Homo sapiens: one gene and its partners. The protein of the gene in region 2 interacts with the protein of the main gene of each other region in a pairwise test. Each region holds a gene or a part of one and is shown on either strand. Other genes may lie near its edges.

The links.
Region 1: the proteins of ANKS6 (region 2) and AGTRAP interact in binary tests that used the Homo sapiens proteins (3 or more experiments, as listed by UniProt).
Region 3: the proteins of ANKS6 (region 2) and VAMP4 interact in binary tests that used the Homo sapiens proteins (3 or more experiments, as listed by UniProt).
Region 4: the proteins of ANKS6 (region 2) and BET1 interact in binary tests that used the Homo sapiens proteins (3 or more experiments, as listed by UniProt).

What each region holds. Positions count from the first base shown.
Region 1 is NC_000001.11:11,738,926-11,746,957, forward strand, and holds part of AGTRAP (type-1 angiotensin II receptor-associated protein), read left to right. Parts: intron 1-5,607; coding exon of another isoform or gene 5,608-5,643; intron 5,644-6,877; coding exon 6,878-6,912; intron 6,913-7,201; coding exon of another isoform or gene 7,202-7,298; intron 7,299-8,032. UniProt on the Homo sapiens protein: Appears to be a negative regulator of type-1 angiotensin II receptor-mediated signaling by regulating receptor internalization as well as mechanism of receptor desensitization such as phosphorylation.
Region 2 is NC_000009.12:98,792,750-98,800,980, forward strand, and holds the start of ANKS6 (ankyrin repeat and SAM domain-containing protein 6), read right to left. Parts: upstream 3,807-8,231; 5' UTR 3,743-3,806; coding exon 3,384-3,742; intron 1-3,383.
Region 3 is NC_000001.11:171,717,276-171,725,307, forward strand, and holds part of VAMP4 (vesicle-associated membrane protein 4), read right to left. Parts: intron 1,947-8,032; coding exon 1,896-1,946; intron 1-1,895. UniProt on the Homo sapiens protein: Involved in the pathway that functions to remove an inhibitor (probably synaptotagmin-4) of calcium-triggered exocytosis during the maturation of secretory granules.
Region 4 is NC_000007.14:93,994,125-94,002,156, reverse strand, and holds part of BET1 (BET1 homolog), read left to right. Parts: intron 1-2,862; coding exon 2,863-2,987; intron 2,988-5,835; coding exon 5,836-5,892; intron 5,893-7,771; coding exon 7,772-7,927; 3' UTR 7,928-8,032. UniProt on the Homo sapiens protein: Required for vesicular transport from the ER to the Golgi complex. Functions as a SNARE involved in the docking process of ER-derived vesicles with the cis-Golgi membrane.

The DNA of each region.
Region 1 (8,032 bases), on a different chromosome or scaffold from region 2:
TCCTCTAGTGGCAAACAAAGGGTTTAAGTCTTGGTCTGCATGCCCTGCTGGTTTCTCTTCAGCCTTTCCTTCTCCAGGTTAGACTTCCTCATTTCCATCTGCCCTCTACGGCTCTTCGAGATCCTGACGGTGTAGCACAGTGGACAGAGCACAGGCTTTGGGGGCAGGCAGGTCTGCATTCAAGGTCTTGAGTAGGTTTCTGTGTGACCTTGAGTAGGTTTCTGAACTCTCTCAGTATCTATTTCTTCATTGTAAAAAGAAGTTAAATACAGTCCCTACCTCCTAGGATGATGGATCCATGGTCCAGGACGTAGTCTAGAATTAGGGTTACAAATTCAGGCTGGGCCAGGCGTGGTGGCTCACACCTGTAATCCTAGCACTTTGGGAGACCCAGGCAGGTGGATCATTTGAGGTCAGGAGTTCGAGACCAGCCTGGCCAACATGATGTAACCCCACCTCTACTAAAAATACAAAAATTAGCTGGGTGTGGTGGTGCTCGCCTGTAGTCCCAGCTATTCAGGAGGTTGAGGCACCGAGGATCACTTGAACACGGGAGGCAGAGGTTGCAGTGAGCCGAGATCGCACCACTGCACTCCAGCCTGGGCGACAGAGCAAGACTCTGTCTCAAAAAAACAAACAAAAACTCTGGCTGGATAGATTGATTCTGACATTTGTGTCTGGGCTCTGTTGTTTGTAAGCTTTATGAATTGGGCCAATTTACTTAATCTCTCAGAGCCTCAGTTCTACCCCATACAGTTACACGGATGACATGAGTTAGGGGCAGTGCAGTGTAGATGCATGGCAGGCTGGTGCTTGTCAGTAGCAGGAGTTGCTGCTGTCGTTGATGATGCAGGATCCCTGCCCCACATAGGTATTTAACAGTTAGTAAACGGATACTTACAGTGACCGTCCAGATAGATGCTTGTCTCTGGCAGTTGAGGCACCCCCGTGGGACAAATGGGTACTGCCTCCGTTTCGCAGAAAGGAGCCTGAGGCCTTGGCGCCTGGACCAGCACCCAGGTTTCCTGTTCCAGCATAGCATCCTGGGACCCTCTGCTGCCTTGGTCCATTGACCCCTGTCTGGGAAAGAGCTGGGCGGCCTCCCCTGGGCTGAGCACTGTAGTGAGAGTCCAGGGGCTCAGGTCCGTCCTTCCTGCCCAGCTGGGAAAGGTCCTGGCCCTGCCACCCGTTTAGCTCAGGTTCCTTCCCTGCTTCCAGCTCCTCTTTCAGGCCATACCTGAGAATCCTGTGTCTCTTTGGCTACCAGGAAGCTCCCCCAGGGCCAAAAGACAGTGGTTTTGTCCTGACAGTTACTGGCCCCTCTTTCCCTGGGCTGCCAGGAAGTGCAGGGCCCGTTTGGCTCAGTTTCTCCCTGGAGTCTTCCTGCACATTAAGGCCTCTCTGGGTGTCCTCCTGTTACACAGATGAAGAAACTGAGGCAGGGGAGGCTTAGGCTTCTGGACGTTTCTTTTCCCAGGGGCTTAAGAGGAGCAACTGGTGCTAACTTTGTTCATATTTATCAAACCAAAGTGACGTCACGCAGAGGAGACTGTGTGTGTGCTAAGGATCTGCAGTATTTCCAGGTTACGTTGTTTTCTTCCCTAACAGAGATGGCAGAGGTGTGGGCCCAGCTGGGTGCTCACTCTGTATTACAGGCCCTTCCAGCGCTAGGAAAAGCCTTTACCTCATAGGTTGTAAGCATGACCCTTAGGGTATCCTGCGGATCAGAGGCCCCCCTGGGACTCAGCCTTTCATGCTAACTGCCATTCTTTCCGGAATAATCCAGGGCTCTGCAGGGCCCATTTATTAAAGACCTACTCTGTGTACAGTCTAGGCATAGGAGCGAGAGCATTGAAAATGAAGATCATTTCCAAAACAAGCCCAGAGTGGGAAGAGTTAGGTGTCGATTTTGGGGAGGAAAGGGGTGATGGGAGCTACCTTCCCTCTGTCTCTTTCCTCGGTGTCTTCTTTAAAAGCTGGATGTTGGGACCACTGTGGCTGACTCTGCGGTGTGGCCCTGAGCAAGTTCCTTCCTGTCTGTGGTCCAGGGTTTACTATCAGATGGAGGGGACAGTGGTTAGCTCTGAAGATAAAGATCAGAATCGTCCTCATGCCCAGCCCTGCCTGCCCCCAACTTCCTGTCCCTCCCTCCTCCACTCCCCTCACCTTCCACTCCAGCCACACTGGCTTCTGTTCAGTTTCCAGAAAGTTCCACGCCCCCCTTCTGCCACAGAGCCTTTGTGAGTGCCGCCCCTCCTGCTCAAAATGCTCTTCTTCCCCCTCAGCCTCCCCCATCCCTTCCTCAGAGAAGCCCCTGACCACCCCAACCCTCCCAGCCTCCCTGCTGTTCAATCAGGTGCCCTTTCCCTTGCTTTCCTTCAGGATGCTTTCCTTCAATCAGGTGCTTTCCTTCGGGATGAGGGTTCACTGCACCTCCATTCCTAGGGCAGAGTACCTGGTTAGCGAGGTCAGTACTGAGAGCGCAGCTCCGAATCTGCTCTGCACACCTCTGACTCCCCAGGGTGAATGAAAAGCAGGTGCCAGTGATGCTGGGTGACACTAAATGTTTAAGAAACTTAACACCGTTTATCACTTCAAGCCCCTGGGGATTGAAATCCATGGAAGACTACACCTCTCTTGCCTCAGTTTCCCCATCTTTGTAATGGGGAGAGGCCTAATGGCTGGACAGCACAGCCTGGGTTTGAGTCCTGGCTCTGCCACTGGCCTGCTCTGTGACCTTGGGCAAGTTACTTCCTTCTGAGCCTCAGTTTTCTCAGCTGTAAAATGGGGATAATAAGACCTCAGAGGATTGTAAGGATTTAGTGCATTTATATACAGAAAGCACTTAGAATGGCACCTAGCACATAGGAAGCGCTCAATAGTAGACGAAGGTAGGTGAGGTGATGGCGAAGATTCCTTCTAGAGCTAGACTTCTGTAACACACTACTCAGCCTGGTCAGAGTCTCGAGATCTTAAAGTTGGGTGCATCGGTCCTTACAGAATTATTTTCCTAGTCTCTTGGAGCTGAGAAAGGAATTTCTTTTGGGCCACAGAGCCAGGCCCCTTGTGGTTCACTCTGGCCCTGGGCCCTGGAGGTAAAGGTGAAGTATCTCAGCCACCAGCTCTGGATTCCATCTGCCCCCATGTGTGGACCTTTCTCACAAGCCCAAACAGTTCCCAGCTGAAGGCCTGCGCCCCCAGCGGGGAGGTTGGGTGCACTGGTTTTGGAGGCGAGTTTGAAATTTAATTCCAGTTTTGCCACTTGCTACCTGTGGAGTCTTGATCAACATAATTTATCTCTGAGTCTGGTTTTCTCATCTGTGAAATGGGAATAATAGTACCAGAGGCTGCTGTGAGGTCCAGATAAGGTCATGTGAGACGGTTGGCATAGGGCCTGGCACATAGTTGGTGTGTGGTCAAGAGTAACTCTTCTAGAAATGCTTTTTCCTCTGCTGCCAGAGTGAGTTTGTCTGTCTTTCTTTTCTGTCCTTTCTTTCCCTTCTTTCCCTTCCTTCGTTCCTTCCTTCCTTCCTTCCTTCTTTCCTTCCTTTTCTTTCTTTTTCTTTCTTTCTTCCTTCTCTTTCTCTCTTTCTTTCTTTTCTTTCTTTCCTTACTTTCTCTTTCTGGCAGGATCTTGCTCTGTCCCCCAGGCTGTAGTGCAGTGGCATGATCTTGGCTCACTGTACACTTGACCTCACTGGCTCAAGTGATTCTCCCACCTCAGCCTCCCAGGTAGCTGGGGCTATAGATGTACTCCACCATACCTGGCTAATTTTTTGATTTTTTGTAGAGATAGGATCTTACTTTGTTAGCCAGGTTGTTCTCGAACTCCTGGGCTCAAGCAGTCTTCTCCCTCCACCTCCTAAAGTGTTGGGATTACAGGCGTGAGCCACCAGACCTGGCCCACAGTTCTTTTTTGCAGGTGGTGAGGGCTCCTTCTGCCCTTCCACCCAGGCCAGAAACCCCGGCCTTCTTCGCAAACCTTGCCCATGTCTGCGCCAGGACACTGCCTCTGCCCCAGGCATGTGGCATCTCTCCCTTCCAGCCTGACCCCTCAATCCCTTGAGTAAACTTCTAGGGCCCTCATTGACCACCAGGCCCGTTGAAGCTCCCAATTTGGGGCTCCTGGCCTCCCAAAGTCTCTGTGCCACCCCACCCCGACCTCAGTTATCTCCATGCCCACCGCCACCCATGCAGGGCCTGGGGCTTGGCCCCACTTTGCCTGGCCGAGCCCCGCTCATACATTGTGCTCAGCCTGGGTCCCTTCCCTTTGGAAGCTCTTTCTGCAGCTGCCTGCCCTCCCAAGGCATCTGTCTTTTCTTTTCTTTTTTTTTTTTTGAGATGGAGTCTCACTCTGTCACCCAAGCTGGAGTGCTGTGGCCCATTTTGGGCTCACTGCAACCTCTGCCTCCCAGGTTCAAGTAATTTTCGTGCCTCAACTTCCGGAGTAGCTGGGATTACAGGTGCCCACCACCATGCCCAGCTAATTTTTGTCTTTTTAGTAGAGACAGGGTTTCGCCATGTTAGCCAGGCTGGTCTCGAACTCCTGACCTCAAGTGATCCACCTGCCTTGGCCTCCCACAGTGCTGGGATTACAGGGGTGAGCCACCGCGCCCAGCCCATCTGCCCTTTTTCTTTCTTTCCTTTTTTTTTTTTTTGAGGCGGAGGTTTGTTCTTGTTGTCCAGGCTGGAGTACAATGGCGCGATCTCGGCCCACTGCAACCTCTGCCTCCTGGGTTCAAGCGATTCTCCTGCCTCAGCCTTCTGAGTGGCTGGGATTACAGGCATGTGCCACCATGCCCGGCTAATTTTGTATTTTTAGTAGAAACGGGGTTTCTCCATGCTGGTCAGGCTGATCTCGAACTCCCGACCTCAGGTGATCTGCCCACCTCAGCCTCCCAAAGTTCTGGGATTACAGGCGTGAGCCACTGTGCCCAGCCTCCATCTGCCCTTTTTCTATGTGCTTTCCAGTCAGGGCCTTGTTGATGTCCCGGAGTAGAGACCAGTTCCAGGAGAGGAGGCTGTCATTTTAAGGACACAGAGGACATTAAAAAGGGTAAAATATTGTAGCTGGGTGCAGTGGCTCCTGCCTGTAATCCCAGCACTTTGGGAGACCAAGGTGGGTAGATTGCTTGAGCCCAGGAATTTGAGACTAGCCTGGTTAACATAGGGAGACCTTGTCTCTACAAAAAAACAAAAATTAGCTGGGCGTGGTGGTACACACCTGTAGTCCCAGCTACTGGGGAGGCTGAAGCAGGAGGATCACTTAAGCCCAGGAGTTTGAGGCTGCAGTGAGCTGTGATGGCGCCACTGAACTCCAGCCTGACCCACAGAGCAAGACCCTGTCTCCAAATTTAAAAAGAAAAAAGTAGAATATTGCAGAAATCCAGAAAAATAGCCAGGGGGATTTTGTTGTTGTTTTTCCTTACCATAAGGCATACCAAGCTATCTCCCTGTAGAAAAGTCTCAGTGGTGTCCCTCGTTGCACTTGGCATGAAGCCCACGCTCCTTCCCGAGGCCCTCAGGCCCCCCTACCTGTCCCCAGCTACCCTCCCTTTGCCCGCTCTCTCCAGCCACAACAGCTGCTTTCCCCTCTGCCCCCCACAGTGCGCCAGCTCCAGTGTCCCAAGAAATCACCCTCACGTGAGTCCCCACCGCTCCGCTTCCCATCGAGGCCTCTTCTGATTTCAGAGCAGATTCCCTGCATTCCACAAAGGAGCCTCCCACCCTTGTGTTACAGGAAAGGGGTCCCAATCCAGACCCCAAGAGAGGGTTCTTGGATCTCGCACAAGGAAGAATTCAGGGCGAGTCCATAGAGTAAAGTGAAAGCAAGTTTATTAAGAAAGTAAAGGAATAAAAGAATGGCTACTCCATAGGCAGAGCATCCCTGAGGGCTGCTGGTTGCCCTTTTTAAAAAAATTAATTAATTAATTAATTTACTTATTTTTGAGATGGAGTTTCTCTCGTCGCCCAGGCTGGAGTGCAATGGCACAATCTCGGCTCCCTGCAACCTCCACCTCCCAGGTTCAAGCAATTCTCCTGTCTCAGCCTCCTGAGTAGCTGGGATTACAGGCACACACCACCATGCCCGGCTAATTTTTGTATTTTTAGTAGAGACAGGGTTTCACCATGTTGGCCAGGCTGGTCCTGAACTCCTGACCTCAGGTGATCCACCCACCTCGGCCTCCCAAAATGCTGGGATTACAGGTGTGATCCACCGCGCCCAGGCTGGTTGCCCATTTTTATAGTTATTTCTTGATAGTATGCTAACCAAGGGGTGGATTATTCATGCCTCCCCTTTTTAGACAATATAGGGTAACTTTCTGACGTTGCCATGGCATTTGTAAACTGTCATAGTGCTGGTGGGAGTGTAGCAGTGAGGACAACCAGAGGTTACTCTCGTGGCCATCTTGATTTGGGTGGGTTTTAGCCGGCTTCTTTACTGTAACCCGTTTTGTCAGCAAGGTCTTTATGACCTGTACCTTGTGCTGACCTCCTGTCTCATCCTGTGACTTAGAATGCCTTAACCATCTGGGAATGCAGCCCACTAGGTTTCAGCCTTATTTTACCCAGCTCCTATTCAAGATGGAATTGCTCTGGTTCATACGCCTCTGACGCTTGGAAGGGGTGTGGGTGTCAGCTGCCCCATGGGAGGGGTGAAGGCATGAAGCGGCCCCTCCCTGGCCTGGCCTGCTTTCTTCCTCCTCCTTCACTCCTGGGCCACCTGCAGTTGCTGGTGTGCCTTTTCAACAGACATTACTGAGGCCCTCAGAGGTGCCAGGCGCAGGGGCGTCCTGTGTTTTCTGCACCCGACGCTTTCCTGCCCCTGTGGTGGTCATGTTCACAGACCTCTTCTCTCCCCCTTGTTGTGCCACAGGTGATTCTCCTAGGTCACTGGCTGCTGACAACCTGGTAAGTGACTCTGTGGGTATCTTGTGTGTCTCCTGCGGTCTCAGGGTCTGTGTCAGCCGGGTCAGGTCCTGGTTCTGCCGTGTTTTAACCAGGTCACTTTGGGCCAGACAGCTCTGCCTCTCCGGGTCTTGATTTCCGTCTGTACAATAGGCATAAGGATTGCACACCCTGCAGGAGCTGGGAGGGAGACGTGGAAGTGCTCATCAGAGCTCCCCAGGGCCTGCCCCACAGTGAGGCCTCAGCACTGCAGCTTGATTTTCACCTTTACCATCTCTTTTAATCTGTTGAGCTTCTGGAGACATTTCTCTGCCAAACCAAGACTGGAAACCATTGAGCTCACCTGTGCACTTTGCAAACTTCGAAGTGCAGCGCACAGGGCAACAGCTGTGAGTAATGTGAACTGTAACCATCATGATTCACGACCTTGAGAAGCAGGGCCAAAATACAGATTTCTTAGTCACACTTCCCCAAGATTCTGAGTTGGTGATTCTGGGCTGGGACCCAGGCACCTGCTTTCTTAAAAGCAAAAGATAAGATGGTTTATTCAAAGACCTATTGAACCGAATGGCACTCCACACCTGCCTTGCACATGTCTTCTGCATGTTACACTTTAGTGAATGTCCTATAAATCTAGGAAGCGCCCGCTGCATGCAGGGGAAGGCAAGGCCCAGTGGGTTTGGTAATAAATGAGGTAGACTCAGTCCCTGTCCCCCTGAGTCTTCCTTGCAGCACAGCAGGGTGAGCAAGAGCATGGCCTCTCCAGCCAGACTCCAAATCCCAGCCCCACTGCTCAGCAACTGTGTGACCTTGGGCGAGTTACTTAACCTCATTGTGTCTCAGTTTCCTCATCTCTAAAGTGAGGGTAACAATAATACTTCCTTCCTATGGTTATTAACATAAATGTACATGAATGAGTTAATTTAAAACAGAACCATGCTAGGTACTAGCAAGTGATCGGTGTTCACTATGATTTTGATTGGATTGACAAGTAAGTCAACAATGTCAGTATCAGTACCCTAAAAATAGAATAGGGCGGGCCTTGTGTTAGGAAAGTGACGAACTTGTACTTAGCACCGGTGGGCAAGGGAAGGAGTCTCAGGGTGAACATTCGAGTCTCAGG
Region 2 (8,231 bases):
ATTAATCTAAAGCCTCTCAATTTGAACGTGATAGAGTCAAAAGTTGCACCTGGACTCAAAATCGAAGCTCCAGTATAACCAATTTTTAAGGAGGAAGAAAAGGGGTGAATTAGAGCAGAAATAGTGAAATTTGGAATGTTTTCTGAATTAGTGAGTAGCCCAAGAGAGCACTCAACTATGCTGAAAATATAAAAGGATCCAAGCAAGGCTGAGATAATGTTGTGGATGCTAAGTTTCTAATAGGTAACTGCCGGAGATGGGCATGCTAGGGGCTTTCTGAACAGGTGCTGTGATTACTGATGAATTTCAGCAATTAACACCTGTGTTTAAAGAGCTGGCACACATTTTCCCCTCTCAAAGCACTGGGCTGAGAGTCCAGCTCTGCCCCACTGGCAGGCAGGAAATGAAGGGTAGGGAAGGAAGGTAAACACTATGCAACCCTGTCCCTTGGAGAGAAGTCTCTGGCAAATTTGGCAAGCCGCTTCCAGGCACCAACACCAAGAGGGAAACTATCAGTTACAGGATTCATGGCTGGGAGCACAGGCTCTGGAGCCACCTCCCTAGGTGTGAATCTGACTCGCCACTTGGTAGCTATGTTACTTGAGCAAGTTATTTAACTTCTCTGTTCCTCAATTCCTCATTTATGAAATGAGGATGACAATAGTACCTCCTTCCTAAGGTTTTGTATGGATTGAATGACTTAATTCATTTAAAGCACTTAGCACAGTGCTTGACAGAAAGTCAGTGCTCAATAAAGGTTGTTTTTTGTTTTGTTTTGTTCTGGTTTTTTGAGATGGAGTCTCGCTCTGTCGCCAGGCTGGAGTGCAGTGGCGCGATCTCAGCTTACTGCAACCTCCGCCTCCCAGGTTCAAGCGATTCTCCTGCCTCAGCCTCCCGAGTAGCTGGGACTACAGGTGCGTGCCACCATGCCCGTGCCACCACGCCCAGCTAATTTTTGTATTTTTAGTAGAGACAGGGTTTCACTATGTTGGCCAGGCTGGTCTCGATCTCCTGACCTCCTGATCTGCCCGCCTCGGCCTCCCAAAGTGCTGGGATTACAGGCGTGAGCCACCGCACCTGGCCAAAGGTTACCTATTATTTTAAGAACATGAAAAAACATGCCCCAGCGCGGTGGCTCACGCCTGTAATCGCAGCACTTTGGGAGGCCGAGGTGGGCGTTTCACGAAATCAGGAGATTGAGACCAGCCTGGCCAACACAGTGAAACCCGGTCTCTACTAAAAATACAAAAAGTAGCTGGGCGTGGTGGCACGTGACTGTAATCCCAGCTACTCCGGAGGCTGAGACAGGAGAATCGCTTGAACCCAGGAGGCGGAGGTTGCAGTGAGTCGAGATCACGCCACTGCACTCCAGCCTGGTGACAGAGCGAGACTCCGTCTCAAAAAAAAAAAAAAAAAGAACAGGAAAAAACACTAAGGTCACCATTTCTAATACTAAAACACCCACAAAAGACCAAAGGCACAGGGTGTCTAATAGTCTGGCCTGATCCACACAGAGAGCTGGGACGATAAATAGATGCTTGCTCAGACCCAGCGTGGTGGCTGCCAGGGGTGTGGTTTTGAGCAGGATTCTGGGGGCGTATCCAGATCCAAGGAAGAAGAGCACAAGGCTGGAAGGTGTCAGCACACAGGCCATTCATTTGCCTACCCCGATGTGAGGGACAGACACACTGTACATCCTTCTGGAAGTCTTCCATATATACTACTCCTCAACTTGACCTTTTCTTATGAATTACGCAGCAGAAAGCTGGAGCACAACTCAACACAGGCAGAGATGCTACCTGAATATAGAGTCGGTGTCACACCAACTGAGGAACAGCACATTTTAAAATACCCAGGCTCAAGACTATCCTGCAGAACTTGGTTAAAACTGATGATCTGGGGTCTCTGAGACACTCTGAGGCATGTCAGTGCTGTAGTCACAAACCTCACTCAGTAAATTCCTCAGGGGGCTCACCAGGGCCCCTGTGCACGCACTTGGTGGATTGCAGAGATGAGACACACATAACACATCAGTGGCTCCCAAACCTACCATACAAGAGAATCACTGGGGAGCCTCTTCTCACACAGAGTCCCTGTCTCTTACTCCCCTCACTGCCCTGGGCCTTCTAAATCACAATCTCCAGAAAAGGAACTCAGGAATCTGCACTTAGACAAGCATCCTGGTGATTCTGATGTGTGGCCAGGTTTGGGTACTGAGGAAGCCAGTCAGCATTAACATGGTGTGATGGATGCTACCACAGAGGCCTTTCTGCTGCGGAGGGACCAGAGAACAGGGAGATATCATGGCAGGCTTCACAGAAGCCAGATCTCTAGATGCCATCCTTGCTGTCTCTCTTAACCCCTCCCCAAGGGCCAGTCGTCAACTCCTGCTGATCTACTCCCTGAATATATCACAAATTCATCTGGGTGCCCTCCCTCCGCTGTCTCCATTCTGGTCTAGGCCACCATCACCTCTCACTCAGACTGCAGCAAACTCTACCTAACCAGCCTTTTTGACTCTAGCTTACCCTAGAGTATCTAATCTATTCTCACACTTCAAGGAAAGTAATTTTTCCAAAACGTAACTCTCATCCTGTCACTCATTCTGCCTAGAACCTTCCATGACTCCCTAGCACCTTCCATGACTCCCTAGCACCCTAGGATAGCTAGCGTTTCTCAGCTCCCACACTCCCCCAACTCCCTGGCATCTGCCTTCTCTCCAGGGAGGACTAGTACATCATTCTACTCATACATTCTACGCATACCTCATTCTACCAGTCCTACCAGCTCGTGCACCCAAGCCTTTGCATGGGCCTCCCATCATGCCTTCCCACAGCCCACTTGTAATGTCCTGGCTAATTCTCAGGTATCCGCAGGTCTCCACGTGGATATAAACATCTTTTCTACCAGAAACCTTCCCCCACGTCTCCAAAATGGGTCACCTGCCCCACAGCTACTCAAACCTTTCCGGTCAAGCTCGTTCCTTTGCCTGGCCTGCCCACCAATGCCCTGGGTGGGGACTCTGCCTGGGTCTCGCAGCACCCTCAACGCCAAGCCAGGAAGGGAAGGCAGGTTCTGAGGAAACTCTTACTGCAATAAGAAATGAATTAAATCTCTAAGGTTCTAAGTCTCTACAATTCTATTCGCTGTCTCCAGATTCTATTCTGAAAGGCCAAAATTTCTAAGAATCTGATTTTATGTTAATTCAAAAGTGTTTCCACGTCTATGCTCAAAGTTTACAAAAGACTACTCAAAGTTTACCATTCCAACTCTAAGGAGTCCTTAACTCTTCACCTCCCGGGGCATCCGGCCGCCGGGGACCGCGTCTCGGGCCAGCGCCGGGCACCACTCTGGTCCCGGGCCCCCGGGCCCCGCCGCCTCACCTGGCCGCCTGCATGAGCGCGCTCCAGCCGTAGTGGTTGCGGCTGTTGACCGAGGCACCGCGGCGCAGCAGGAAGCGCACCAGCGGTTCGTGGCCCCCGGCCGCGGCGAACTGCAGTGCGGTGTTGCCCGCCTCGTCCGAGCAATCCACGGGCACCGGAGCCCCGACTGCCCCCGCCGCTGCGGCCCCGGGCCCGGCCACCTCGGCCCCCGCCGGCTCCGCGCCCGCCTCCGGCTCCGCGCCGCGCTCGGCTGGCTCCGCCGCCCCCGGCTCCAGCAGCCGCCGCGCCGTCTCCGTGTCGCCCTGGTCACACGCGCGCAGCAGCAGCTGGAAGGCCGGGGGCAGCCCGCCCTCGCCCATCGCCGCCGCCACGCGCGGCCCGCTCCCGTCCGCCCCGCCGGCCGCGTCGGCTCCGCCCCCGGATACCGCCCGCAGGCGCCCCCTTCCGGCCACCCGCCCGCGCCGCGCGCCTACTGTGTGCCGGGAGCGCGCCGGGGCTAGGGCCGCGCGCCTGCTGTGTGCCGGGAGCGCGCTAGGGCCGGGGCTGCGCACCTCCAGTGCCCGTATTCGGGAGTCCAGGGACGCTCAGAGGAGCGCCCGCCGCAGACCCGCGTGTTCCCTTTTGCCTCTTCGGCGCCCTCTCGCCGCCCTGTCCCGGGGCTCCAGAAACTTCCTGTCAGGGCAGAGGTGGGAGCGGCCACGCCATCCCCTCTTCACGCTGTGGTCAGGGCCCTGGGCCCGGGTCTGAGTCCGCAGCTGCGTGGGCCTTGACTTTACTAGCGGGCTCCGCTGACCCCACCGCAGCCCCTGGCACTGAACCTGCCCTTCTAGAATAAGGAAGCGGCTGAATTAAGGAACGAACGGATTGTTTCCTCACAGTGTCCTGCGGTGCCCTTAATGTCGCTCCTTCATCTGGGCCAGGCTGCTGGGGCTAAAAGCGCCTCCTGTTCTCTCTCTCTCCCCCACCTTTTATTTCAACTATTATTATAGATTAAAGGGTACAGGTTTGTTACATGGGTAAATTGTTACATGGGTAAATTGCGCGACGCTGAAGCTTGTGGTCCCAACGATCCCGTCACCCAGGCAGTAAGCATAATACCCACCAAGAGGTTCTTCAGCCCAGAGTCCCCTCCATCCCTCCCTGGCCTAGCGATCCCCAGCGTTTGTTGTTCCCATCTTTGTGTCCATGTGTACTCAATGTTTAGCTCCCACTTATAAGTGAGAACATGCAGTATTTGGTTTTCTGTTCTTTTTAGGTCGCTTAGGATAATGGCCTCCAGCTTTATCCATGTTGCTGCAAAGGGCATGATTTCGTTCATTCTTATGGCTGCATAGTATTCCGTAGTATTCCATCATATTCTATCGTGTATATGCACCACATTTCTTTCATTCCTTCCCTCTCTTCCCTCCCTCCCTCCCTATCCCCCTTCCTTCCTCCCTCCCTCCCTCCCTTTCTCCCTCTCTCTCTCTCTCTCTCTCTCTCTTTTGACAGGGTCTTGCTCTGTCATCCAGGCTGGAGTGCAATGGTGCAATCTCTACTCACCACAACCTCTGCCTCCCAGGCTCAAGCAATCCTCCCACCTCAGCCTACCGAGTAGCTAGGACTGCAGGCAAGTGCCACCACACCCGGCTAATTTTTTGTATTTTTGGTTGAGAAAGGGTTTTACCATGTTGTCCGGCTGGTCTCAAAGTCCTGAGCTCAAGTGATTCACCTGCTGTGGCCTCCCAAAGTGCCAGGATTACAGGTGTGAGCCATCACATCTGGCTCTGTACCACATGTTCTTTATCCAATCTACTGTTGATGGGCACTTAGGTTGATTCCATACCCTTGCTATTGTAAATGGCACTGCAATGAATATACAGGTGTCTTTTTGATAGAATGAATTATTTTCCTTTGGGTATATACCTGGTAGTAGGTTTGCTGGGTCAAATAGTTCTATTTTAAGTTCTTTGAGAAATCTCCAAACTGCTTTCCACGGTGGCTGAACTAGTTTGCATTCCCACCAACAGTGTATTTTCTCCACAGCCTTAGCAGCACCTATTGTTTTTTGACTTTTTAATAATTGACATTCTGACTGGTGTAGATGATATCTCATTGTGGTTTTGATTTGCATTTCTCTGATGATTAATGATGTTGCGCATTTGTTTCATATGTTTGTTGGCTGCCTGTATGTCTTCTTTTGAGAAGTGTCTGTTCATGCCCTTTGCAGAGACACAACGAAAAAAAGAAAACTTCAGGCCAATATTCCTGAAAAACATAGCTGCAAAAATCCTCAATGACATACTACAAACAGAATCCAGCAGCACATCAAAAAGTCAATTCACCATGATCAAGTAGGCTTTATTTCTGGAATGCAAGGTTGGCTCAACATGCGCAAATCAATACATGTGATTCACCATATAAACAGAATCAAAAACAAAAACCATATAATCATCTCAATAGATGCAGAAAAGGCCTTCAATAAAATCCAACATCCCTTTATAATAAAAATCTTCAAAACAGATTAGGCATTGAAGGAACATACCTCAAAATAATAACAGCCATCTATGACAAACCCATAGCCAACATCATATTAAACAGGCAAAAGCTGGAAGAAGACTCTCACCACTCCTATTCAACATAGTACTGGAAGTCCTAGCCAGACAACCAGGTAAGAGAAAGAAATAAAAGGCATTCAAATAGGAAAAGAAAAAGTCGAACACTCTGTCTTTGCGGAGAGTATGAATCTATACATAGAAAACCCTACAGAGTTTGCCAAAAGGCTCCTGGAAATGATAAACAAATTCAGTAAAGTTTCAGGACAGAAAATCAATGTATAAAAAGCAATAGCAGTTTGATATGCCAATAACATTCTAGCTGAGAACAAAATTAAGAACACAACCTCATTTACAATGGTCACAAAGAAAATGAAATACCTTCTCTCTCTTTATCAGCGGTCCTTGAAGTGTGTCCCACACAGCAGTAGCACCATCACCAGCTGCAACACTGTTACAAACGCAGATTTTTCTGGCCCTACCCAAGATCTACTGAATCAGAAATTCTGGGTGTGGGTTCAGCAACCTATATTTTAACAAGCCCTCTGGGTGATTCTGATGCATGCTAAAGTTGGAGACCCACGTTTGATCTTCATTGCACGCCTGCCATCCACCGGGGAGGGCCCAGATGATCATCCCTAGGTTGCAGAGGAGGCAACCGAGGCACAAAGAGGTTGTGTCTTGCCAAAGACTCCACAACTATTCTGCAGGAGAGCTGTGAGTAGGACTCAGGTCTTCTGACATCGAGTCCAACTCTCTTTCCATTTTCAACAAATATGTATTGAGTGCCTGCCATTTCCAGACACTGTTTTAGGTGCTGGAAAAGCTGCAGGATTTAGTACAAGGTTCTTCTGTAGCTCACAGATCCATGAGAGCCTGAGAACCAGTTCTGGAGGCCCCAAAGCCAGGAACAATGACCCAAATCTCATGCCGCAGCTGCACCCTGTAGGAAGATGGGGTTGGTTCAGGCCCTTTTTGGTGTTCCTGGCTTCAGATTCAGAGGCTGAGGTGACAGTGCCTGACTGGCCCAACTTGGGTCATGTGCTCATATAATAGCGGGAGGTAGTTTCTGCTTCAGAAGGTAGGGCACTCCCAAATGTAGGAAGGGGGTTCAGATGCTGGGCAGTCAAAAACGATAACAAGTGTTTGCTATGAAATATTCCCTCTGGACACCCTTTTTCTTTTGGGAAGCCTTTCTTCCCTACTCACAGTCTGTGTGCTTCAGTGGTTAGCACATATCCTGATTGGCTTCAGCCCAGGACTTTTTTTTTTTTGAGACGGAGTCCCACTCTCTCTCCCAGGCTGAGGTTCAGCGGCACAATTGCACCCCACAAACTGCAACCTCTGTCTCCTGGGTTCAAGTGATTCTCTGCGTTAGCCTCCCGAGTAGCTGGGATTACAGGCACCCACCACCATGCCCGGCTAATTTTTGTATTTTTAGTAGGTACGGGGTTTCACCACGTTGTCCAGGCTGGCCTCAAACTCCTGACCTCAAGTGATCTTCCTCCCTCAGCCTCCCAAAGTGCTGGGATTACAGGCATGAGCCACTGTGCCCAGCCCAGCCCAGGATTTTTGCTAAAGCAATTGAGAATGAGGCCCTCTCTGCTGAGGTTGCCAGCTATCAGGATGTCAGCCAAACTGGTGCTCACTTTGCCACCACTTGAAGACAGCCTGCCTAAGAGTGAAGTCACCACAAAAGAAAGCAAAACCAAGTGATAGAAAGAGACTAAGTTAGAAAATCCCTCCCCACATTCTTTTTGGTGAGGTTTATTTTGAGCAGCATTGTTGTCACTTGCATTCCAAGCCTTAACAAATGGATAATTTACTTTTTTTGTAAATGAATGGGTTCATACTACGCATGCTATTCTTGAATCTTGCTTTTTTTTTTCTTTTTCCATTAACAAATGTCTTGGGCACCTTTCCATGTAGGTAAATACAGACTGCTGCATTTTAAAAAAATGATTGCGGCCCGGCGATGTGGCTCATACCTGTAATCAATCCTAGCACTTTGGGAGGCTGAGGCAGTCGGATTGCCTGAGCTCAGGAGTTTGAAACCAGCCTGGGCAACACGGTGAAACCCTGTCTCTACTAAAAATACAAAAAAATTAGCCAGGCATGGTGGCATGTGCCTGTAGTCCCAGCTACTTGGGAGGCTGAGGCAGAAGAATTGCTTGAACCTGGGAGGTGGAGGTTGCAGTGAGCCGAGATCACACCACTGCACTCCAGCCTGAGCGACAGAGCGAGACTCCATCTCCAAAAAAATTTTAATAAATAAATAAATGATAGCATGAAACACCATTCAGCAGACGTACCA
Region 3 (8,032 bases), on a different chromosome or scaffold from region 2:
ATAAAGAAGTCATTCTGGCTCAGTGCAGGAGAATGGTTCAGACATTACACATTGGCATCCACATATGCCACACAGGCTTGAACTACAGCTAATTTGAGTCCTGGTAGAATGCTTGTGATCTCCCTGGAACATGAGAGAATGAGTGGCTCATGAGGTCTTCTTCCATCCACCTCCCTGTTTCCCTTATGAGACTATCATAAGGCAGTTTCTTATCACCTCCCAGGTTCTGATGCGGTATAAACTTTCTGCAGGCTCTATGTGCAGACTATAAAAACCACAGCCTAGAAATAGCTCCTTTGCAATAGAGTATCCCACAATTTGTACTGCAGCCATTGACCTCCCCTTTTTTTTTTAAGAGAAGGGGGTTTCACTTTGTTGCTCAGGCTGGTCTCAAAACTTTTGGCTTCAAACAATCCTCCTTTGAAGGAGAATCCCAAAGTGCTGGGATTACAGGCGTGAAACACTGCACCCAGCTGTATCATTATTTTTGGTGTGCAGGACAATGACCCTGAGAGCTACTAACTTTGGCTACTCTTCCTTTTACTATATAAGTAATAAATTGCATCTAAAAGTGGCTTGTTGTATCTTTAGTCAAATAAGAGACTTGAAACAGTACAGATTCTCTCTTCTACTGGCCTCAAAGAAGCACCATGACATCTATAGCTGCAGGAAATAAATTCTGATAACTTCCTGAGTTGGTCATACCTGGTGATACCCTGATTGCCATCTTGTTAAACCTGAGCAAAAGGCTCACCTAAGAAGTGCCTGAACTCCTGACCCAAGGAAACTGTGAGATGATAAATGTGTGTTGTTTTAAGCTGCTAAGTTTATGGTAATTTGTTACATGGCAATAGAAAACTAATACACCCAGTCTAGTACCTGTAATCATTTATTGGTTCTTTGGTTCCATATCTCAAAATCCATTAGTTAGAATTAGGCTAAGTATGGAAATATTTCTTCACACCAACAGCTACCTGAGTAAAGCCCAAGTATCTCACCAATAACTAGATACTTCATTATAGAACCCTTCCCACAATGTGCCATCTATACCCAGGCTTAGGGTAGTGACTATTATCCCTCCTTAGGTCTTGAACCTGGGCCATGCAGTTCACATTCCACAGTTAGTCTTTACAGCTTGGTCAGTTTCCAGAGCCTTCCCTCAAGTGACTCACTGCTCTGTCTATTCCTTCTCCCCTCCAGTCAGGACTCATATCTTTCCGATATCAGACACATTGATTACAGCATATTATACTCATCTATCACCAAATAATATATACCTCAAAGGTTTTAAACCACAAATTAGCCATAAAACTTAGTTCAATATATGGGTTATGATAAATAAGAGATATGAAAAAATTCTGGAAGTAGATAAAAACATGCAGTACATCAACAAATTAAAGCTATTATATTACCTTTGTTATCATTCTGAAAATAGGAATCAAGCTACAGATTTAAAACCAAAATAGACCTTCAGACTATGCTAAATAAATGGATTTGACATAAGGTAATCAAGTCATAAAAAAACCAACAATCCTGCATTTCCTTAGCTATAATTCTGAGAAAATAAAATGAATTAGGTTTTTATAACCCAGCAGTTATATTTAGTCTTCATCAGGGGTCAACAACTTTTTCTGTAAAGGACCAGACACTCAGCAGATATTTTAGATTTTGTGGGCCATAAAATGTGACACAGCTTTGTCACAACTACTCAACTTTGCCATTGTAGCTTGAAAGTACCTATCGATAATATGAAAACAAATGGGCATGGCTATGTTCCAATAAAACTTTATTTACAAAAACAGGCTGCAGCCAGATTTGGCTCACAGGCTGCAGTTTGCCAATCTCTAGTCTACACAGAAATATGATTATCATTTAAACAAATGAACAAAACTTACTGCTTAATTTTATCATTTCTAGGTCCAAATCTTGGTCCAGATGGTCCCCTTCTGAAAACAAGTACATACCAAGTACATATTAGTAGTGACAGGATTAAAACAAAACAAAAAAAAGATAGAAAGTATACACAAATACAAACAATCAAGCTGAACTCTAAACATGGATCAGTTATTTATCATAAGGGACCACATTTTACTGATACTGGTGAAACTGAATAATAGGTAATCATGTCTTTACTTCATTGGCACTTATTACTAGCCACAATTAAGCTAATTCTTCTGCATGTTAAAACTTTCAGAGAAATTAGGGTTTATATTATCTTATATAACAAACTTACACAGAATTTGTTCTGATCATTAAACTCTGAAATATCCTAACTACTTAACTGCTAGTGAATATTAATATCTTTATGGTCAACTGTAGAACTAAAAGCGCAATTCATCTTGAATTTAGACTATAATGAAATGAGGAAACTACAAAGTGAACTGCCGATTGACAAAGATGGATATAGAGAAAAATTCATTGAAGACACTAACAATTTTAAGTATGTTTTTGATTATTCATCTTAAACTTATCAACATAGCAAAAGGGAAATGCAAGATATTAAGAAAATTTTAACATTACTCAGATTATTATCTCCTTATTGTAGTTGAGTGTATATCACACCTTAACCAATCCATTTTAATATTCTTGAAATGAAAACATTTGGTTATTTAAAGTAATCATGATTCTTCCGGAGATACAGAATAAATAAGACATAAACTACAAAACTCAAAAGAAACCAGGTTCTTAGATTTCTAGACATGGCAATTTCTAAAGGAGGTGAAAAAATACAGCAATTGATAAAAAAATTTTGGAAAAAAAAACTGTTTACTGAAACTTATTTAACATAATGTATAAGTGTGAATATATCATCTTGCCTTAGTTCCTCTAAGCTTTTTCCTTAAAGTCTTTTAAGCTCCAACTAAGCCTCAGAATACTGGAACAGTATTCCATTCCAAAGTGATGTTAAACATTGAATTTCATAGAGAAAACTAATATTCTGAACCAGAGGCCATTCCTAAAAACTAGGCAAGAACTTACAAGAGCTGGTCAACCGAAAAACAAAGAAAAGCAGTCATTAAATGAGGAAACTATAAAGTGAAATAGAATCTGAAAAGTACTGAATTAAAATGATCCCCACTACAGGTTAAAAAAAAAGCAGGAGCTATGTCTGTTTCATCTATCAAGTAACATGAGACTTCAAAATACTTATAGAAAAACACAAAATGAAAAGCTGGTTCTTTGAAAATTAAAACTTGATAAACTTCTAGCCAGACTGATTAGGAAAAAAAGAAAGAAGGCATAAATTAGTAACAGGAATGGAAGAGTGAACATCACTACAGACAAATGTACCATGGTTATATAAGATTTATTAACAGAAGCTAAGTGAAGCGTAGATAGGAACTCTCTATACTATCTATGCAACCCTTCTGTGGGTCTAAAATTATTTTTAAAAAATCCCCCAAAGAAAATTCCAGGACTAGATTTGTTCAGTTGTCAATTCTACCAAACATTTAATGAAGAAAAAATAAGAATTCTATGCAAACTATTCTGGAAAACTAAAAAAGACAGAACTTTCCCAACTCATTATCCAGGGCCAGTATGAACCTACCACGAAAACCAGATAAAGACACAACAAGAAAAAGACATAACTATCAACCAACCAATACCTCTAATGAACATAGATGCAAAAATTCTTAACAAACTCTTAACAAATTGATTCTAACAATGTTTTAAAAGAATAATACATGATGACCAAGTAGGGTTCATATCACAAATGCAACGACGGTTTAAAATTTCAAAATCAACATAATTCAACACATTCACAGACCAAAAAAAATGATCATCTCAATAGATACAAAATAAATGCTTGACAAAATCCAACGTCAGCTAATGATAAAAACTCTTCACAAACTAGGAATAGGAGGAAACTTCTTCAACCTGATAAATCTACACACAACAACAGTAACAACATGCAATGAAAATGAAACATAATATGAAAGATGAATGCTTCCCCTAAAGGAGATCAGGAACAAAGCAAGGATATTCCCTCTCACCACCTCTACTCAATATTGTGCTGGATGTTCTAATCAGAGCAATAAGCTAATAAAAAATAAAAGGCAAACATAGACGAGGAGGAAATAAAACTGTCTTTATTTGCAGAAAGCATAATTGTTCTATGTTGAAAATCCAGTAGGATATATAAAAACACTACTAAAACTAAGTGGGTTTGGCAAGATTGTAGAATACAAGGTTAATTTACAAAATGATATTTATACTAGCAATAAGTATGACATTTTAAAATTTTGAAACACCATCTGAAATGTCATTTTTAGTAGCATCAGAAATTATGAAAATCAATGTGCAAAAATCACAAGCATTCCTATACACCAATAACAGACAAACAGAAAGCCAAATCATGAGTGAACTCCCATTCACAATTGCTTCAAAGAGAATAAAATACCTAGGCATCCAACTTACAATGGATGTGAAGGACCTCTTCAAGGAGAACTACAAACCACTGCTCAACGAAATAAAAGAGGACACAAACAAATGGAAGAACATTCCATGCTCATGGATAGGAAGAATCAATATTGTGAAAATGGCCATACTGCCCAAGGTAATTTATAGATTCAGTGCCATCCCCATCAAGCTACCAATGACTTTCTTCACAGAATTGGAAAAAACTACTTTAAAGTTCATATGGAACCAAAAAAGAGCCCACATTGCCAAGACAATCCTAAGCCAAAAGAACAAAGTTGGAGGCGTCACGCTACCTGACTTCAAACTATACTACAAGGCTACAGTAACCAAAACAGCATGGTACTGGTACCAAAACAGAGATATAGACCAATGGAACAGAATAGTGCCCTCAGAAATAATACCAGACATCTACAACCATCTGATCTTTGACAAACCTGACAAAAACAAGAAATAGGGAAAGGAATCCCTATTTAATAAATGGTGCTGGGAAAACTGGCTAGCCATATGTAGAAAGCTGAAACTGGATCCCTTCCTTACACCTTATACAAAAATTAATTCAAGATGGATTAAAGACTTAAATGTTAAACCTAAAACCATAAAAACCCTAGAAGAAAACCTAGGCAATATCATTCAGGACATAGGCATGGGCAAGGATTTCATGAATAAAACACCAAAAGCAATGTCAACAAAAGCCAAAATTGACAAATGGGATCTCATTAAACTAAAGAGCTTCTGCACAGCAAAAGAAACTACCATCAGAGTGAACAGGCAACCTACAGAATGGGAGAAAATTTTTACAATCTACCCATCTGACAAAGGGCTAGTATCCAGAATCTACAAAGAACGTAAAGAAATTTACAAGAAAAAATCAAACAACCCCATCAAAAAGTGGGCGAAGGATATGAACAGACACTTCTCAAAAGAAGACATTTATGCAGCCAACAGACACATGAAAAAATGCTCATCATCACTGACCATCAGAGAAATGCAAATCAAAACCACAATAAGATACCATCTCACACCAGTTAGAATGGCGATCATTAAAAAGTCAGGAAACAACAGGTGCTGGAGAGGATGTGGAGAAACAGGAACGCTTTTACACTGTTGATGGGAGTGTAAACTAGTTCAACCATTGTGGAAGTCAGTGTGCGATTCCTCAGGGATCTAGAACTAGAAATACCATTTGACCCAGCCATCCCATTACTGGGCATATACCCAAAGGATTATATCAAGGGAACCACCCCCGATAATTCAACATAGGACCTTTTCTATTTTCCCTAAGTGTCGGCTGGTCTGAGTAATAAAGGGAAAGACTACAAAAGAGAGAAATTTTAAAACTGTGTGTCTGGGGGAGACATCACGTGTCGGCAGGTTCTGTGATGCCCCCCTACGCCGCAAAACCAGCAAGATTTTGTTGTGATTTTCAAAGGGGAGGGAGTGTACTAATAGGGTGTGGATTATAGAGATCACATGCTTCACAAGGCAATAAAATATCACAAGGCAAATGGGGGCAGAGCAAGATCACACGACTGGGGCAAAATTAAAATTGCTAATGAAGTTTCGGGCACGCACTGTCATTGATAACATCTTATCAGGAGACAGGGTTTGAGAGCAGACAACTGGTCTGACTAAAATTTACTGGGCAGGAATTTCCTCGTTCTAATAGGCCTGGGAGACCAGGGCTTATTTCATCCCTTATCTGCAACATATAAGACACACATTCCCAGAGCAGCCATTTTAGAAACCTCCCCTAGGAATGCATTCTCTTTCTCAGGACTGTTCCTTGCTGAGAAAAAGAATTCAGTGATATTTCTCCTATTTGCTTTTGTAAGAAGAGAAATATGGCTCTGTTCTGCCCAGCTTTCAGGCAGTCAGACCTAATGGTTATCTCCCTTGTTCCCTGAACATCGCTGTTATCCTGTTCTTTTTTCAAGGTGACCAGATTTCATATTGTTTAAACACACATGCTTTACAAACAATTTGTGCAGTTAATGCAATCATCACAGGGTCCTGAGGCGACATACATCCTCAGCTTACGAAGATGACGGGATTAAGAGATTAAAGTAAAGACAGGCACAGGAAATCACAAGAGTATTGACTGGGGAAGTGATAAATGTCCATGAAATCTTCACAATTTATGTTCAGAGATTGCAATAAAGACAGGTGTAAGAAATTATAAAAGTATTAAATTGGGGAACCAATAAATGTCCATGAAATCTTCACAATTTATGCTCTTCTGCCATGGCTTCAGCCAGTCCCTCCATTCGGGGTCGCTGACTTCCCACAACGGATTATAAATCATGCTGCTATAAAGACACATGCACACATATGTTTATTGTGGCACTATTCACAATAGCAAAGACTTGGAACCAACCCAAATGTCCATCAGTGACAGACTGGATTAAGAAAATGTGGCACATATACACCATGGAATACTACGCAGCCATAAAAAAGGATGAGTTCATGTCCTTTGTAGGGACATGGATGAAGCTGGAAACCATCATTCTGAGCAAACTATCGCAAAGACAGACAACCAAACACCGCATGTTCTCACTCATAGGTGGGAACTGAACAATGAGAACACTTGGACACAGGGTGGGGAACATCACACACCGGGTCCTGTCATGGGGTGGGGGGAGGGAGGAGGGATAGCATTAGGAGATATATCTAATGTAAATGATGAGTTAACTGGTGCAGCACACCAACATGGCACATGCATACATATGTAACAAACCTGCACACTGTGCACATGTACCCTAGAACTTAAAGTATAATAATAAAAAATAAAAGAAAATACTTAAGGATCAATTTGACAAAGAAAAAAATACAACATCTGGACACTGAAAACTACAAAACACTGCTGAGAGAAATTAAGTACCCAAATAAATAAAAAGATATACTATGCTCATGGGTCAGAAAACCAAATATTGTTAAGATGTTAATTATCCCCAAATTCATCTATAGGTTCAATATAATCTCAACCAAAATTCTAGCAGGCTTGCTGGAAACTGACAAGATGATTCTAAAATTTATATGAAAATGCTTAGAGCCTCCAATAGCCAAAAGAACTTTCAAAAGGCAGTGCAAAGTTGAAGGATATACACTACACTACCTCACAACTTACTATAAAGTCGTAGTACTCAGGATAGTGATTACTATGGTATTGATGTAAGAAAGACACATAGAGTCCAGAAATAGAGCCACACATATATAGTCAATAAATTTTTATTGTGGTAAATATATATAACATATATTTACTATTTTAACCGTTTTTAAGCATACAGTTCTGTGGCATTAAGTAATTCACTTAATGAACTGTCATCACCATTCATCTCTAGAACTTTTTCATCTTTCAAAACTGAAACTCTGTCCCCTAACTTGTCATTCCCTTTTCCTCAAAAGCCCTGGCAAACACCATTCTATTTTGTGTTTCTATGAAATTGACTACTCTAGGTACCTCATATAAGTGGAATCATGCAATATTTTTCCTTTTATGACTGGCTTCTTTTACTTATCATAAAGTCTTCAAGGTTCATCCATGTTTTAGCATATGTCAGAATTTCCTTCCAAACTTTTTAAGGCTGAATAAATTCCATTTATGTATTCAATA
Region 4 (8,032 bases), on a different chromosome or scaffold from region 2:
TTCAGTACTCACTAGCTTTTTTACAACTTTTCATAGCAGTACACCACCAGAAGAGAAGTGGCTTTGTTTGGAATAGCAATTCTAGCATTTTATTTGGTTTTTACTTTTGTCATTGTATTTGGGATGGGTCATAGTTTGAGGGAAGATCAACTCTTTAATAGGAATGTGCATTGATATATTTCTGGACGATAAATACAACAAGAATTTCACTTTGAATAAATGGAACAGCATGGAAGAACTCTAAAATTAAAATTAAGATAGGCAAAAGCAACTAAACAAAGGAAAGAAAAAATAGCAGTTAATTTATAATGAATTCCTTGGTGAAGTTGTCAAATGTTTGAATTCAACCAGTCAGTAATTACTTATTGGGTAAATGTTATATACTCAGAACCTCAGCCACACAAAATAAGAAGACATTCTTTCTTTAAGTATCTTGGCCCTTATTAAACTACAGTTTGCACAGAGTATCATTGGTTAACAGAGTAAGAATGCATTTTTAAATGGTGATTTTAATATTTGACTGAGCGGAAAAATATGCCCACTCCTTGAGTTCTTTTATAATAAAACATGTGGAGAGCTTCATGGATAGTGTGTCATGGATAGTGTGTCAGCAGCAAAATTCAGATAGTACAACTCTCTTCTGTTTGGAAAATACTTCTTCAATATTTTGTTGTGGTTTTTGTGGTGGTGGAGATTGCATAGGTATCTGCTGCATATAAAGTACTCATTAGGTACAGGGAGGATATGGAAGCATGAGATACTGTCTTTGCCTTCAGAGAAGCATATGATTCCATTCTGGACAAAGGTATGCACATTCAAAGTTCAATAACAGTGAACTCAGATTCTTTTCATTAATTAGTTCACATCATGTATTCATTGAGTGTGCCTTACAGTGTGTATGTGTTTGTAGGTTTATGGGGGGACATACAGTGTTGAGTCAAACAAACTTATTCTCTTCCCTTATAGTACTGTACAGAGTGCAATATTAGTGTTACATACAATCAGAGCTGTAAGAAATCAGTGAGAGTTTTGCTTCATAGGGAAAATGAAATTTCTATTGTGCCTTGAAAGAAGTTCCTATTCACACCTTGACTGTCCTTCAGTGATCAGTGCTGTTACCTCCTGTCACTGCTGCTGCATCTGCTCATTGAGCATATGGAGACTTCTAGTTTTGTTTGTTTTTAATAGATGAGGTCTTGCTGTGTTGCCCAGGCTGGTCTCAAATTCCTGGCCTCAAGTGATCCTGCCTCCCTCAGCTTCCCAAGTAGCTGGGATTATAGGTGCAAGCAACTGTGTGCAGCAGGCTCTGAGACTTCTAGTTTTGATATCATTCCTTTCCCCACATTCTCAAGTCACTGTTGAATCTGCTTTAATATCTGTCCAATCTAATCCCCATAATCCAGATCTTCAACCGCTCTTTTGGCAAGCAGTCTCAACCTCTTGGGGCTCCGTTTTTCTGCAACCTCAATATTATAAGCTTCCAACTATAGATTAGTCCAACCATCCACCTTCTCCTGGACTAACTCAGGCCGATGAACTCTTCTGCAGAAAAAAACCACACACCTGGGACGATTGAAGCCACCGTAGTATATTGCCTCAAACAAGTTTGTTTTATCTTTAGTAATCCTGTGCAGTCCCGGTCCCTTTCCTCCATCATTCTCCTTACTGTATATTCTGAATGATCACCCATTCTTCAGCAGATAGCCCGTTTTCTCCCTTTACTGAGAAAATTGATGGCAACAATTATGTTAAAAAAAAGTTCACGCCTGTAATCCCAGCACTTTGGGGGGCCGAGGCGGATGGATCATGAGGTCAGGAGATCGAGACCATCCTGGCTAACAGGGTGAAACCCTGTCTCTGCTAAAAAATACAAAAAAAAAAAAAATTAGCCAGGTGTGATGGCGGGCACCTGTAGTCCCAGCTGCTCGGGAGGCTGAGGCAGGAGAATGGCCTGAACCTGGGAGGCGGAGCTTGCAGTGAGCCGAGATCGCGCCACTGCACTCCAGCTTGGGCGACAGAGCGAGACTCCACCTCAAAAAAAAAAAAAAAGTATAGTTAACTAACACCCTGAACTATGCCGTTTCCTGTTAATCGCCCAACATATTTATATATGTATTCACTAAGGCCCACTCCATCTGTTGTTTGATAGCCTGATGACTATGAAGTACTATATTAGGCAGGGAGGTGTACATTCTTATCCCTTAGAGTTCCATAAAAGTAGCACCTAGAAAGAACAGTGGATCTGATACATGGTAATTCTTCAAATATATGTTGAAGAATAAATGAATCTCCCTCTTGACTCTCAGCTAGCATTCTGCATAAGTTATTGTGTCTCTTTCCTAGAGCTTCAGTTTGCCCCCTCCCTGCTTTGGCTCTTTCCTGTCCAACTGTCTATTTAAGAGAAAGAGATGCCAGTAAAGAACCCTCGCCGCTATGAGCTCCCGTCCTTCTGTATTAACCACTTTTCCCTTCCTCTTCACAGCCACGCTTTTTCAATGGGTAGATGATGTTACTGCTTTTAGAACTTTCATTAAAATATATGTTTCTCTTGAGCAGGGAATGTATCCTGAATATTCTTGTGTATTAGTACCTATTTTTGTATCTTCTGGACAATCAATAAGCAATCCAGAAATGTGTATCAAAATGAACTGAACTGAATATTCTTTGGTTAACAGAGAGTAATGGAAAGAATTGGTCTGATCTCTGTTTGGTTATTTATTTTTTAAATTCATTTGGAGTATGAATATTAGAGACATATGTGGTTTGCAAGGCCCTCCAGGGGTCTTTTTCAGTTCTTTCCTAACTAACAGTGTTTCAAAAGTGGCTTCTCTAGAACCACCTTTGTGACTCTGATCCTTGCAGGTGAAGGAGTACCTCCTGGCAACTATGGGAACTATGGCTATGCTAATAGTGGGTATAGTGCCTGTGAAGAAGAAAATGAGAGGCTCACTGAAAGTCTGAGAAGCAAAGTAACTGCTATAAAATCTGTAAGTATATAACAAATATTATATGTGTTTTAATTCATATATTTCTATACATATAATTATAAACTATATATTCTTATTGACGTCATCCTAAGGAATTCATTTACTCAGATACTGTGGTTTTGTGAGGTCAAAGTACACTCAAAATTTAGACTGTGCTTTGAGTAAGTTAAAAAATGTGGCACATCAAAAGATAGATTTTTTTTAATACTTAAGAAAAATCTCCAGCTCTTTTTTGTATACTGTATGCTGTCTGCTGTAATGTCTCAAACAGAGCTGTCCATCTTCCACCCCCAAGTAGCTCTTCTGCTTTTTTTAATCTAGCCTTCTAAGCTATAAATCTTGGTCTTTCTTATTTCTACCTTTGTACTTCATTTCAGTCACTGAGTCTTACACTGTCTTTCTGATGTTTCTATCTTTGCCTTTCTATTTCTAATACTATCCCCTGGTTTTCTTTTCTTTTCTTTTTTTTTGAGATGGAGTTTTGCTCTTGTTGCCCAGGCTGGAGTGCAATGGTGCAGTTTTGGCTCACTGCAACCTCTGCCTCCTAGGTTAAAGCAATCCCCCTGTCTCAGCCTCCCAAATAGCTGCGATTGCAGGTGCCCGCCACCACACCCGGCTAATTTTTGTATTTTTAGCAGAGACAGGGTTTTACCATGTTGGCCAGGCTGGTCTTGAACTCTTTATCTCAGGTGATCCGCCCGCCTTGGCCTCCCAAAGTGCTGGGATTATAGGTGTGAGCCACCGCACCTGGCCTATCCCCTGGTTTTCTTAGTTGAACTATTGGAAGAACATCTTAACCTATCTGTTCCTGTTTTTTTGCACATTATGATCTGAGCTATATAATCATTGCCACAGTCCTCGTTTAGAATATTTTAAAACTTGCATCCTGCACTCCCAGAAGTCTTCAGCGTCCTTCCATGATTTAATAAAGTTCATGCTTCGTAGCTTGATTAAATCAGATAGATCTTTCAAAAATTGGCCTTAGCTTTTGAGATCTTATCTCTCACACTTCCAGAATCTGTATGTGCTTCCTGCTAGACAAATTACACTTTGTGTCCTCTGTATGCTGTCACTTTCCCACCCCCATATCACACTATCCCTTTGCCTTAAGCCTCCACTTCCTTCTTAGATCAACTGAAGTGCTGCTTATCCACATCCGCCCCACTTCATTGCACCCCCTCCCTCCAAACTTTTACCTGATTACCACATCCAAAAGTAACTTTTCTTCTTATGAACATAAGACCATTTGTGCCATTTCTGTAGCACTTATTCATAGTGATTTGCATTGGCATTATTTGTATGTAAAAGGAATTTACCAGAATGCAGGTTTTCTATTGTACTTACTTTATATTCTATATAGCACTTAGCATAATTCCTTATCAATGGTGTTGAGTAAATTTGTATTGAACCAAAGAATTACACGAAGATGATTTTAATAATATATGTGATTGATACTGCATTATAATGAACATGACGTTCACTTATAAAGCATTCAGTAGAAGCCCATGTTGATAAAACTTAATTGGTATTTCAATATAGTCTTTGGAAAATCGAATTACATTCAGTCTGGAGACCTTTAGATTTTGAAACAGGATTGTTTTCAAAGTCATATTAAACTAAAGTTGATTTATGAACTAAGTAATATTGTATAATGTTAATTTTAAAAATACAACACTTGGAAGGACTTAAGAATTAAATGCCTTTAAAAACCCCCCCAATGTAGATAATTTAGATTACTTGTTAGAAGAAAGTTGTGATGTCCTGGAAATATTTTTCCTTGGCATGAATGACAGTGATAGAAGTTGAGTAATGTGGGCAGTCTAGCTTTATAGTTACTTTATTATCTCTGAGTTGTTAAATCTGGGAGGAAAGCTCATGTTCTGATCTATAGAATTCTAGTATGGTTTTGTATCAGTATTATCCCATGTGCTTTCACACAGATGAAGAACAATATTTGCAGTGATTTACCAAGATTTTCAGTAGATGATTCTATTTATTTAAATATCTTGGAAGTGAAGCCTTTGATGAATCTGTCCTATAAAGTATTAGATAGATTTTGGTTTGAATAGTTGTCATAATTAGCTATAGTATTGTATTTTGTAAGCTATGGCTCTTTTCTTCAGAGCTTCAGGAAGTAAGTAACACTAATATTTATTTTTTTCAATTTATTATCATATTTTAAAGCAAAAACCTTTAAACTAAGGAAAAATCAGTTTAGACATATTTAAAGTAATGTAACATTTCATTAGGAAAATATTAAATACTTCTGTCTAGATTTGAATTGGTTGTATGGGTACTTCTAGATCTTTCAAAATGTAATAAGGTTGGGTACTAGGCTTAATTCTTGGTTGACGAAATAATCCGTACAACAAATCCATGTGACATGAGTTTAACTGTATAACAAACCTTCACCTGTACCCCCAAACCTAAAATAAGTTAAAATATATATATATAATTTATAAAATATAATAAATAAAATGTAAGAAGGAAATATACAGATATTTGTAGGAATTTGTAGCTTTTGTAGGAATATAATAAAGATATAAAAGCATACAAGGTTAAGAGAATCAGAGAGAAGTAGTACATACCAAATTAAAAGATGGAATTGAATATTAAGATGAAATTAAAATAAAGAGGAAAGAAGAAATGTCCATAATTGGGAGGAGTAGAAATTCCAAATTTATTTTTTATTGATCTTGGTAGAAAAAGTATCAGAAAAAGAGAGTTTATGTGTCTAGAAGACCGTTTCATTTCAGAAAATGTGTATGCTTAGAATGACATTATTTTTACTTTATAACACTTGAATACTTTTATGTGAGTAATCCTGTGTATACCTTCTTCTTTATAGCTTTCCATTGAAATAGGCCATGAAGTTAAAACCCAGAATAAATTATTAGCTGAAATGGTAAGTGGTTATGATTTTAACTTTAAGAAATTTGATCTAATATTCGCAAATAATAGAATTTCAACTTTTATTCATTTTGAAATACAGAGATCGTAAGTCCTTGATTCCCGTCCATTTGTATCTAATGTGTTTGGAATAACTATAAGGTTTATTTTGCCATGCTTTTGCATTTTTCATCTCGTCTTACGCATGTAAGTGGGAGGAACAAGTGGAAGCCAATATATCTTTAATCCTGTTTTTAGAATGATTGTTAAAAACAAGACAAATGACTATTTTGAGTAGTCTTAGAAGTCTCAATAGTAGAGACTACTAGTAATTTATTAACCAAGCAATCAAAAGGCACTTGATATCCAACCAACTAAATGTCGTTCACTTAATGGATACTTACTCTTTTGCTTGATTTCCTAAGGATCACTTATGAAAAAAGTGCTCATACATTTGAACAGCCCAGAGCCTTTTCTCTCTAACAACATATACCTTTTCTTGTTAGAGTCCCCTTCCATTTGTTAACGTTTATCTTGAATGTCAAGCTTCTCTGAACCTTCTCTGGTTCCATGTGCTTTTAAAATTGTGCTATTCAAAAATGAATTTGGCATCAAAAGCAATGTTCTTGCTAAGCTTGTGCGCTATAATAAGCTAGGGACCTCTTTAAAAATGTATATGCCTGATTCTGTCTTTAAATATACTGATTTAGAATTTCGTGAGGAGGGATCTAGATGTAAATATTTTGAAAAAAGCATCTCTGGTGATTCTGATGCATAACCATGAAAAAGCATCTCCGGTGATTCTGATGCATAACCATGGTGAAGATCCATAGATCTAAAGTATATGAGCCACATAGACACTGAGCTATACAAAGGATATTTATTATTATGCCAGGGCTTTTACATCTCAGGATATTATAATTTCTATGAAAGTATGTGTAATATTTCTAGTCCCTACCTAAGCCTCTCTCATCTTTAGGATTTTCCAGCTATGTTTTAATACGTTAGTTTTTCCCCATCCATATTTATAGTCCTTATCACATTTTACTACCTCTATATGATATTCTCTTAACTTAATAGACTCTACTTCAAAGTCAGCTGTCTAAACAAAAGGATATTAAAAGTAAAGGTCCAAGGCCTAGCATGGTAGCTCACGCCTATACTCCCAACATTTTGGGAGGATGAGGTGGGCGGATTACCTGAGGTCAGTAGTTCAAGACCACCCTGGCCAACATGGTGAAACCCCATCTCTACTAAAAATACAAAAAAATTAGCTGGGCGTGGTGGCGTGCGCCTGTAGTCCCAGCTACTTGGGAGGCTGAGGCAGGAGAATCACTTGAACCTGGGAGGCAGAGATTGCAGTGAGCTGAGATTGCACCACTGCACTCCAGCCTGGGCAACGAGCGAGACTCCGTCTCTAAATAAATAAATAAGTAAATAAAAGTACATTTAACTGCTAACCGTATTACATTTTGGATGAAATCCTCTACTTGGGTAGCAGTCAACCATTTGACCTTGGAGAGCAATGGCACAACAAAAAGTGGGGAAAAAAATCTGTGTGATAATGCACAAAGTACTTACATTTATTGTTAATTTTTTTTATCCACATAATTGGAATAACACCTAAATAGTTTTGAGTTGTTGAATTACTCTGTGGAGCTGAAAGAAGTGTTTATTGGACAATGAAAGAGCTTTTTATTCGCTGAGAGTATTACTGTATTTTGCATGGAGAAATCAGGCTGATTATCCAAGGTTATCAACAGGCTCCTGAATTGATTAAACACAAAACTGTCATTACAAATGTACTATGGTAACAGTTATTCAATTACTTGGATATGCATATGTAGACTCTTAGAATCTAACTGTGATATTTTATTTGCCTTTATCTCTGATAGGATTCACAATTTGATTCCACAACTGGATTTCTAGGTAAAACTATGGGCAAACTGAAGATTTTATCCAGAGGGAGCCAAACAAAGCTGCTGTGCTATATGATGCTGTTTTCTTTATTTGTCTTTTTTATCATTTATTGGATTATTAAACTGAGGTGATGCATGTAATTGTGAATTTGGAATTTGTTCCAACTTAATGGCTTGCAGTACCACTTTGATAAAAATCAGCATCAAAACATTCCTAGTGTTCAAATACTGTGGCAT